Homo sapiens: one gene and its partners. The protein of the gene in region 1 purifies or fractionates together with the protein of each later gene. This does not show direct contact. Each region holds a gene or a part of one and is shown in the gene's direction. Other genes may lie near its edges. The genes, in order: TBC1D4, TLE3 and PEX7.

Evidence for each region.
Region 2: the proteins of TBC1D4 (region 1) and TLE3 fractionate together in Homo sapiens (co-fractionation; one large-scale study listed by BioGRID). This does not show direct contact.
Region 3: the proteins of TBC1D4 (region 1) and PEX7 purify together in Homo sapiens (co-immunoprecipitation; one large-scale study listed by IntAct). This does not show direct contact.

What each region holds. Positions count from the first base shown.
Region 1 is NC_000013.11:75,297,170-75,300,669, reverse strand, and holds part of TBC1D4 (TBC1 domain family member 4), read left to right. Parts: intron 1-1,095; coding exon 1,096-1,340; intron 1,341-3,500.
Region 2 is NC_000015.10:70,056,247-70,059,978, reverse strand, and holds part of TLE3 (transducin-like enhancer protein 3), read left to right. Parts: intron 1-518; coding exon 519-569; intron 570-1,163; coding exon 1,164-1,316; intron 1,317-1,687; coding exon 1,688-1,820; coding exon of another isoform or gene 1,821-1,829; intron 1,830-2,320; coding exon 2,321-2,520; intron 2,521-3,604; coding exon 3,605-3,681; intron 3,682-3,732. UniProt on the Homo sapiens protein: Transcriptional corepressor that binds to a number of transcription factors. Inhibits the transcriptional activation mediated by CTNNB1 and TCF family members in Wnt signaling.
Region 3 is NC_000006.12:136,909,377-136,912,029, forward strand, and holds part of PEX7 (peroxisomal biogenesis factor 7), read left to right. Parts: intron 1-2,653. UniProt on the Homo sapiens protein: Receptor required for the peroxisomal import of proteins containing a C-terminal PTS2-type peroxisomal targeting signal. Specifically binds to cargo proteins containing a PTS2 peroxisomal targeting signal in the cytosol.

The sequences.
Region 1 (3,500 bases):
AAATTTTAAGTGAGAAAGTAAAACCATAATTTTAAAAATTGCTTATTTGGCTCTGCTTGTAGCCATCTGTGTTTCTTCAGCATGCAATTGTTATTTTCTCATATCTTCCTCTTACTGGCTCTGCAGAATTAATCTTATTGGTTCCTAGAAAAAAAAATCACTTTTAAGCATATGTGGGAGAAAACATTTTAAAACCTGGCACTCTTGCAAGTTCTAAATGACATGAGTAATCATTTCACAAGGAAGCTAACATCCCCCTTCATTTTTGTGGCCCTAGAAAAATGCCCATACCAATATAGACAGCTTTGATGTGAAGACGGATTTGTTTCTGTGTATAGAACTCTCCTTTTAGTGATGCAGGACTCACATTGCCAGCTCAAGTGTCTCTGTGGTAATTTTATACCTAGAGGTATATTTTAGAGGGGAATTTATTTGAAATTGACTTGACCCTTTATTTTCCTTGATATTTTTAGATATTGAAAAAGAAAAGTGGTTTACATGGCTCATGGAGGTATTTTAAGAGCAGAGAGCGAACGATAGTTGAAAAAGCAGTTTTCTTCTGAATGACAGTCTGAATGTAAAGTCAAACAAACCCAAAAAGTCCCTCCAGTGTCATAAGAAAAGCAGAAATAAACCTGTTTATAGACTATGAAGATTTTCTTTTAAATAATATAATATGTCTTACAGACTTCTGGTTTCATTTAGAAGGTAGTCTTTATATGAATTAGAATTTGCCTTGCTTTATAGTCAGAATAAAATTTATATTCCATTTTCCTGGTATTTCTCCTGGGTACATCATTGGTTTGTGGATTTTTATTGTATTTTTTTTTTTTTTTTTTTTTTTTTGCTGGAAAGAAGTACTGGTTAGCATAAAATGTTTCCTCCCATATCGTATATGTGAAGATGGTATGGTGGCCTGGCAGAACTTGGGGTGAGAGAGGGAGAGACTCTTAGTTACATGGTGACTCTAAGCAACTCTCACTGGTTTGGGAAAGAGTGTCTGTTTATTCTTGGAGGTCACTGAATTGCAATTTCACTGTTGTCTCCAAGGCATGAGGACATTTCAAAAAATATTTTCCTTCTTTTCCTCTGCAGGAAGGACGTTTCCTACTCACCCTTACTTTTCAGTACAGCTTGGGCCAGGACAGCTGTCACTGTTTAACCTCCTGAAAGCCTATTCTTTGCTGGACAAAGAAGTGGGATACTGTCAGGGGATCAGCTTTGTGGCTGGAGTCCTGCTTCTGCACATGAGTGAAGAGCAAGCCTTTGAAATGCTGAAATTCCTCATGTATGACCTCGGCTTCCGCAAGCAGTACAGACCTGACATGATGTCGCTGCAGGTGAGGCACTTGTGCTTCCCGAGGAAGGTGTGAGACTATTACCAGAAATCCTGGCCCTCTTCTCAATTATTACAGTTCAGATTTAAAGAAATGTAGAGCCATTGTCTTAGAACTTGGGTAAAGATTGGGGCATGTTTTAGTTCACTTAGTGTGGGATTTGCTATTTAGGTAAACTTCTAAGTGTATGAGACCCAGAGGCAGAATACCTTTTCCATAAAATTCCTGAAGTAAGTAAATAAGTAATTTAAGAAAGGTAGGTGATGAGGACCCAGTCCTTTATGCCCTAAGTCTATGGGTTACATGGAGAAGGTATCAAATCATCTTTATTCACTTTTTCTCAACTTCTCAGTTGAAAAGGCTCACAGATCTTTTGTTTACAATCTGAAAGTATCTTTATCCCTTTACTTTTGAGTACACAAATAGCAGATACCATGTTATGGTTCTTTTTGAACTTATCATTGATATCTCCCCTCCTTTATCTTCATGTAAGATAGGCCTTTACAGAGGAAAAAGTGTGAAAGCCAGTGGTGCCTTTTCAGTCTGCTTTGTGTGTGTGTGTGTGTATGTGTGTGTGTGTGTGATGGAATCTTGCTTTGTTGCCCAGGCTGGAGTGCAGTGGCACGATCTCGGCTCACTGCAATCTCTGCCTCCCGGGTTCAAGCCATTCTGCTGCCTCAGCCTCCCCAGTAGCTGGGATTACAGGCAGGTGCCACCATGCCTGGCTAATTTTTTTGTATTTCTAGTAGAGATGGGGTTTCACCATGTTGGCCAGGCTGGTGTTGAACTCCTGACCTCAGGTGATCCGCCCGCCTCAGCCTCCCAGAATGCTGGGATTACAGGCTTGAGCCACTGAGTCTGCTTTTCTTAGCAGGCTCTGAAGAAGCACCATTAAGATTTTCCAGGTATTTTGAGTGGGGTATTAACTGCCACTGCTGTCTTTAGCCTACCTCAGACTCCCTGTTTGCACATTTCTCTCCTAGTTTTCACTTCTCTAAGTGGGTTGGTTGCTAATAAGCAGTTTAAATTTTGTCTATAGATACTTAAACAACCACTGCCTGGCAATTTAAAGCTTTCAGTGGTTAAAAATATAAAAGAAGACTTTAAAGAGGATTCTCAGGTTTTTCCTCCCTTGAAATGAGGTATGCATGACTCCCAGTTCATCATAATACTGTGCTTTAGATAAGAAGTAATAGTTTAAAGATGCTTTTAAAATATACTATTTTTTTCTGTTTCCCAGAGATGAGTTTTTTGCCTTTAATATCTCAGTTGCCAATGTATAACAAAAGAATTGTATTTTTAGTCTGAGCGTTATAGTAAATGATATTTTTTGAGAGTATGAATGGAGATGAAGTATTCCATTTTTCTTTACTTTCTGAAGGTAAAATTTTGACTGGGGAGATAGGGCTTTGCTATCAACATTAGGTTTTCTGGTGTGAGTTCATATGATTTGATTCCTCATTGATGACTATTCGTAGGTTTAACAAGTCAAATAACAACTGTGGAAAGTTTTATTTTTTATTCCTAAAGAGTTTACCTGTATCTTTTTATCTTTTTATCGTTTTTTTTTTTTTTGGAGACGGAGTCTTGCTCTGTCACCCAGGCAGGAGTGCAGTGGCGCGATCTTGGCTCACTGCAACCTCCACCTCCTGGGTTCAAGTGATTCTCCTGCCTCAGCCTCCCGAGTAGCTGGGATTACAGGCATGCACTACCATACCCTGCTAAATTTTTTGTATTTTTAGTAGAGTTGGGGTTTCACTGTGTTGGGCAGGCTGGTCTCAAACTTCCGGACCTCAGGTGATCCACCTGCCTTGACCTCCCAAAGTGCTGGGATTACAGGCGTGACCCACTGTGCCTGGTCACCTGTATCTTAATATCAGATAGGAATCAGATGGTCTTGTAAGGAATTCAATAATTCTGATTTTCAGAAACAACGGTTTGGTAGCTATTATTAGAATTTCAAAGATACAGGGAAGTACCTGTGAGTAGTGTTTGATCTGGGTCCACAGATAAAAGGATAATAGCTATCAGTTTAAAAATACAATGATATTTCAACTTAAAAATTATTCATCAATTTGACATTACAAAAATTCATGTAAATCGGATTTATACATTCATTTAATATGGACTGTAAGTACCAAGAAGTATTTTATGTCTATAATT
Region 2 (3,732 bases), on another chromosome or scaffold:
GGTCTTGCACCCAGCCCTCTTCAGCCACATGGCTGCTGTGTGGCTTTGGACACATTGAGCACCCAAAGGACACTCAGCTGTGTTTCTGTGAGAGGAGGCAAGTTACTATCCCACACAGATGGGTGGGAATGACCAGGTGAGAGCAGCACACTGACTGTGAAGGATGGTGGATGTAAAACCAGCTGGGAAGAAGGTTCTGGCTTCAGAGAGAAGCAGAAGGGCAGGCTGTGGGGGCAGGGGCTTAGAACTGCTATGATGGAGCGGGTGTCAGTGCGGCTGCCCAGTGGGTACAGGAGTGGAGTAACCCGGGGCCTGGGCTAGGGGACAGCCTCACGGGGAGACCGTGTTGAGCTGGAGTGGAGCCTGTTGAAGGGCAGGGCTGGAGTAGAAAGCATGGACTTTGGGGTTTGGCCTGGCTTCAGGTCCTGGCCAGTAGAAGGACAGGGTGGTTTGGGCTCAGTCAGGGGTGGGGAAAGTGTGGCCTCTTACTGACCAGTTGGCTTCTCTCTTGGTTGCAGGACAGTGATGGAGACAAGAGTGATGATCTGGTGGTGGATGTTTCCAATGAGGTATGGGCAGGCCCGGTCGCAAGGGGGCTCTTGGTTTGGCATGGTTTGGAATTATTCCTCCCCAGGGTGGGATCTATTCTGTCTGTTCTAGTATTACTGGCAGCCTGAGCAGGGAGACAAGGCCTCCAGTCTTGGGGTCTCAGGGGGTCAAGAGGAGCAGGGCAGGGCTTTGCTGCATGGTGTCTGGGCATTTATGGGCCTGGAGGGCCTCCTGCAATGGGTCTCCAGAGAGACACCCCCAAAGATCCCAGGTAGGGGCCATCTTCTATTCCCCGTGATCCTCCGTCCCCCCAGGGTCTCAGCCTCAGGGGCCTGAGGAGGAGCTGGAGAGCATCTACATTTGGCCAAACCCAGCCATGCTGATTGAAGTCCTGAACTTGTGTTTGACATTGGGAAGACCATCCTTCCACCCTCCCTAGGCCTCAGTCAGACCAGATGGTTAAGAGCTAGTTTTTCCTCACTGTGGGGCCCCCAGTCTTTCAGCCAAGCTCGTCTTCCCATCGCCCATGCCCTCTCTCTTCCCACTCCCAGAGCAGGGAAGCCTCGAGGCTGGCTGTTGCTTTCAGTGCATCTCTGCATCACTTGTGTTTTCAGGACCCCGCAACGCCCCGGGTCAGCCCGGCACACTCCCCTCCTGAAAATGGGCTGGACAAGGCCCGTAGCCTGAAAAAAGATGCCCCCACCAGCCCTGCCTCGGTGGCCTCTTCCAGTAGCACACCTTCCTCCAAGACCAAAGACCTTGGTCATGTATGTGGGGTCTGGGTGGAAGGGAGTGGGAAGGGAGCGGCAGGGACTGGAGCTGGGGTGGTGCCGATTGGCAGGCAGAGGGGTGGAGTGGGAGAAGCTGGGTGGGTGATTGGCCCCGGTTTACCTTCTGTGCCTGCTGGGCCTGTGCTAATGAGTTAACGTTTCTGAGCCTCGGTTGCTACGTCTGTAAAATGGGAGTGATCACCCCAGTCCCTGCCAAACAAGGTTGGGCAAGGATTGAGAGGCTGTTCGGCAGAAGCTTCATAAGGGTCTGGCTCTGGGCTTCACGTTGGGACCGGCACCAGTTGTGCCCGGCTCCTAGGAGAATGGAAGCCTCATGGCCTCCCTTGTTCTGCATCTCCCCTCTTCAGAACGACAAATCCTCCACCCCTGGGCTCAAGTCCAACACACCAACCCCAAGGAACGACGCCCCAACTCCAGGCACCAGCACGACCCCAGGGCTCAGGTCGATGCCGGGTAAACCTCCGGGCATGGACCCGATAGGTATAATGGGTAGGCACCATGGGCTGGGTTAATCTGATTGGGGGGAGGGGGTCTGCTCTTGGCCAGGGCAGGGGTGACACACACGCATGGGATAGAGCACAGGCAGTGTCTCCCAGGGCCTGCCCCTGGGGACTTCACGGTCAGATTTGAGGAGGTGACACCAGGGTTTCTGGGACCCCTGCTGGGCCAGACATGAAAGCAGCATCAGACGGGTCAGGGCTCCCAAAATCTGTTCCCACCCCTGTCATTAGTCCAGTGAGGCTCTAAGCAAGCCCATTTGGGCCTCCATATCCTGCTCTGTAAAAAGAGGTGGGTGCATCTGCCAAGCTCTAAGCTTCTTTGGCTCTGAAGGCAGGGATCCCACTTGGGTGGGTTCAGTCTGAGAGGACTGCCTGGAGCAGGCAGCTTAAGAATGCAGGGAGGGTTATTGCTGGGTGAGGCGGCCATGGCCATGTCCCAATCCACCTAAGGCCCACCTCCCTGACGCCCACCCCTCGCAGCCTCGGCTCTGCGCACGCCCATCTCCATCACCAGCTCCTATGCGGCGCCCTTCGCCATGATGAGCCACCATGAGATGAACGGCTCCCTCACCAGTCCTGGCGCCTACGCCGGCCTCCACAACATCCCACCCCAGATGAGCGCCGCCGCCGCTGCTGCAGCCGCTGCCTATGGCCGATCGCCAATGGTGAGCTTTGGAGCTGTACGTAGACCTTTTGGCTCCTTTCTTGGGGACTGGGCGTGGTGTGGGGAGCCAGTGGTTGGACGGGTGCTCCCCACATGCTAAAGGGGCCCCTCAGGGTCTCAAGGCCAGGCAGCTGCCCCTGTGGGAAGGTGTATCGGAAACAATTGAGACTTGGCTGGAAGGGTACACTCTTTGGGGCCAGCAGACCTGAGTTCCATCCCCCACTGGCCTGTGAGCCGCCCTGTGACCTCATGCAAGGCAGCCTCCCTTTTAGTCTGCAAAACGGGGCTGACACCTGGCTTTCCCAGCTCTGGGGGGTAGGAATCCCAGGGCAAGTCAGGTGATGTCCATGGAGCAGGGGTCTCGTAGATGGGACTGGTTGTACAAGACTTTCTATTGTGGTGAATAAATAATAAGAGTTAGGGGTCGAGCGCAGTGGCTCACGCCTGTAATCCCAGCACTTTGGGAGGCCAAGGCGGGTGGATCACCTGGGGTCAGGAAATCGAGACCAGCCTGGCCAGCCAACGTGGTGAAACCTCATCTCTACTAAAAATACAAAAATTAGCCGGGCGTGGTGGCAGGCGCTATTCGGGAGGTGAAGGCAGGAGACTCACTTGAACCTGGGAGGCAGAGGTTGCAGTGAGCCAAGATTGCACCACCGCGCTCCAGCTTGGGCGGCAGAGCGAGACTCCATCTCAAAAAAATAAAAATAAAAAGAAGAGTTAGGGTTGGCGGGGAGAGGGGCCCTTTTTCAGGAGACAGTTTTCCTTTTTACCTCCTGGACCTGGGGTGGCCTCCTCTCCACTGGCAGGCCCACTAGGACCACAGGAGAGGAAAGAAGTAGGGCAGGGCCAGCTCTGCCTTGCAGAACAGGGAGGATGCTGGTTCACAGTGGGGTCTGCACTGTCACCCCTTCCCTGCCACGGGCTGTCCTGGGCCTGTGTCTCCTCTGAATCAATGGGCTCTGCTCTGCTCAGCTTGTCTCTTGGGTTACAAAGTGGCAGAGCCGTGCAGGTAGGACCCCGGGTGGGTGGTGGAGGAGGCAGGGGTGGGGGTGTGTGGCAGCACGGCTGATGGAGGGCTGTCTTGCCTTGCTTTACAGGTTGGTTTTGACCCTCACCCCCCGATGCGGGCCACAGGCCTCCCCTCAAGCCTGGCCTCCATTCCTGGAGGAAAACCGTAAGCTTTGGCTATACTTACTGCATGCTTTGTAGGGTGGGCAGGAGAGAG
Region 3 (2,653 bases), on another chromosome or scaffold:
GACCTCACACCTAATTGGATGCTTTTTATTATGTGAGGGGCTCTCTCTACTCAACAAAATCTTGCAGTGCTACCAGAAGCCATTGCAGTGGCAGTGATAATTAATAAGAGGTCCCCTGGGGACCACATGGCACAATAGTTTTTCCTTACCAGGAAGTTCCTACATAGCAACCTTGGAGAATCTAGAGCCTCTTTGTTAGTTAGTAAAGTGCTTTTTTCTTACCTTATTATTATTTTCTTTATTGTTAGCTTGCTTAAATTTGTAGAACCAGATAGGGCTTAATTAACAAATAGAGGAATACTATTTTCATCAATTTGAATTAATCTATTCATAATTCTATATCATTGCAGTTTTAGATCTATCTTAATCCAATTAAGTATAGATTTATGAACATTTGCTGAATCAGTGGCCTTGACATTTGGTAGTTATTATAAGTCCTGAATAAATAAGAAGCTGGATTGGAGAGTGCCGAATAAGGTTTCAGAAACATAATTTATAGATACCTTGCACTAGAAACCTAAGTCTTATTTCTCTGATTCTCTTCTCTCCAGTAGCGGATGCTTAACATGTGGGAAGGCCCAGCACTTGAAAAAAATAGGCATAGATGAGACAGGGGTAATTTAACATAATGATCTTTGTGTCCTATGGTATAAAAACTGAAAACTGCAAGATTAGGCAAATAATGGTTTTCAGTTTGCCTTTTCTATGAGGCACTGTTTTAGTGGATACATTCAACAGGTTTAGGTTCTGGCTGTAGCTCTGCTACTCTATTGTGAACATGAGGACAGAGTTAACCTCTGAAATTGTAATCTATGAAATTAATTTGTTGAGCCAATATTCATTGAGTTATGTTCTAATAAGACATGGTCCATGCCCTCAAAGAGCTGAAGACAACTCTTTGTCTTCAGTTGGGAAAATAAGTACAATCAAGTATTATGGGTACAATGAATGACTTCATAGAGGAGATGATACCTAAACTGATTTTTTAAAAAAGAGACATCTCTGGCAGAGCAAGGCAAAGGGGACAGAGGAGCAGACAGAAAGGGAGGGAGAAGAGGAGTTATTAAAGGGAAGCGATCAGTAAAGGAACAAGAGCGAAGAGGCATAAGCAGCATGCTTGGATTTGAGGTGTGAGCCCGGTGCAATGAGAAATGAAATGGGAACAACCAGATCTTGAAGAGTGAGGTTTTTAAATTTAAAAGTTTGACTAAAAAGTCTATAATGCTCTCTGTAGCTTGGATTCTGATCTCAGAATATTGGTAGTGAATGATTGGCTATCACTATTCAAAATTAGTGATAGCCAAGAAATTACATTAGTCAAAACGAGGTTTCTCTTGTGTAATTTTCAGCCTTTGTAATAAGCATGAAAGGCTGGGAAATGGAGTGCAAATACTTTTGGTCAAAAGCACTCTCTTGCTACTTCATCTTTCATTTTACTGCCTACCTTGTTTCTTTTCTTCTTTTTTTTAAATTGTGGAAAATTTTGAAAACATACAAAGTAACAGAATCAGATAACGAACTTCATTACTTAGCTTGAACAACTATCAACATTCTTATTTTATTTATTCCTGTACTCTCACACATCGTTTAGTTATCGCTAACATTATTTTTACTATTTTTAGGTATAATTCACATATATTGAAATTTACAAATCTTAGATATACATTTTTGACAAATAGATACGTCTGTGAAATTCACATCATCCCAGTTATTGGAAACTGGGAAAGCCCCCAGTTTCCTTTTTACCCCTTTCCAATCTCCCCTATCCCCACCCTTCCCTCCAGGTGAGAAGAGTAACATTGTTCTGACTTTTTGTTTGTTTGTTTGTTTACCTTAGATGAGTTTTGCCTGTCTTAGAATTCTATAAGGAACTCTTCTGTATGTCCTCACTTGTTTCTGGCCTCTTACCTGTGAGCTTCACCCGTGGTACTGAGCCTGTTAGCAATTCCTCCCTTTGTTTTGCTGAGCACATGCTGTTGTATGAATTTACTACAATTTGTTACCGATTCTTTTGTTAGTGGGTATTTTGGTTGTTTTCCTTTTTTTTTAGACAGAGTCTCACTCTGTTGCCTAGGCTGGAGTGCAGTGGCATGATCTCGGCTCACTGCAACCTCTGCCTCCCAGGTTGAAGCGATTCTCCCACCTCAGCCTCCCTAGTAGCTGGGATTACAGGTGCACACCACCACACCTGGCTCATTTTATGTATTTTAGGTAGAGGTGGGGTTTCACCATGGTGCCCAGGCTGGTCTCAAACTCCTGACCTGAGGTGATCCATCTGCCTCAGCCTCCTAAAATGCTGGGATTACAGGTATGAACCACTTTGCCCAGCCTTGTTTTCGATTTTTTGCTATCGTGAATGAAGTTGCTATGAACATTCGTGTCTACATTGTTTTGCAAACATATGTTTTCATTTTTCTTGGACAAATATCTGGGAGTGGAATTACTGGGTCAAAAGATAGGTATGTGTTTAACTTGGTAAGAAACGGCCAAATTGTTTTCCAAAATGGTGGTACCATATACCTTCCCTACCAGCAATGTATGTGATCACAGCTGTTCCACATCCCTGCTGACATTTGGTGTTGTCAATCTTTAATTTTAGCCATAATGTGAATATATGGTGGTATCTCATTGTCATTTTTATTTGCATTTCCCT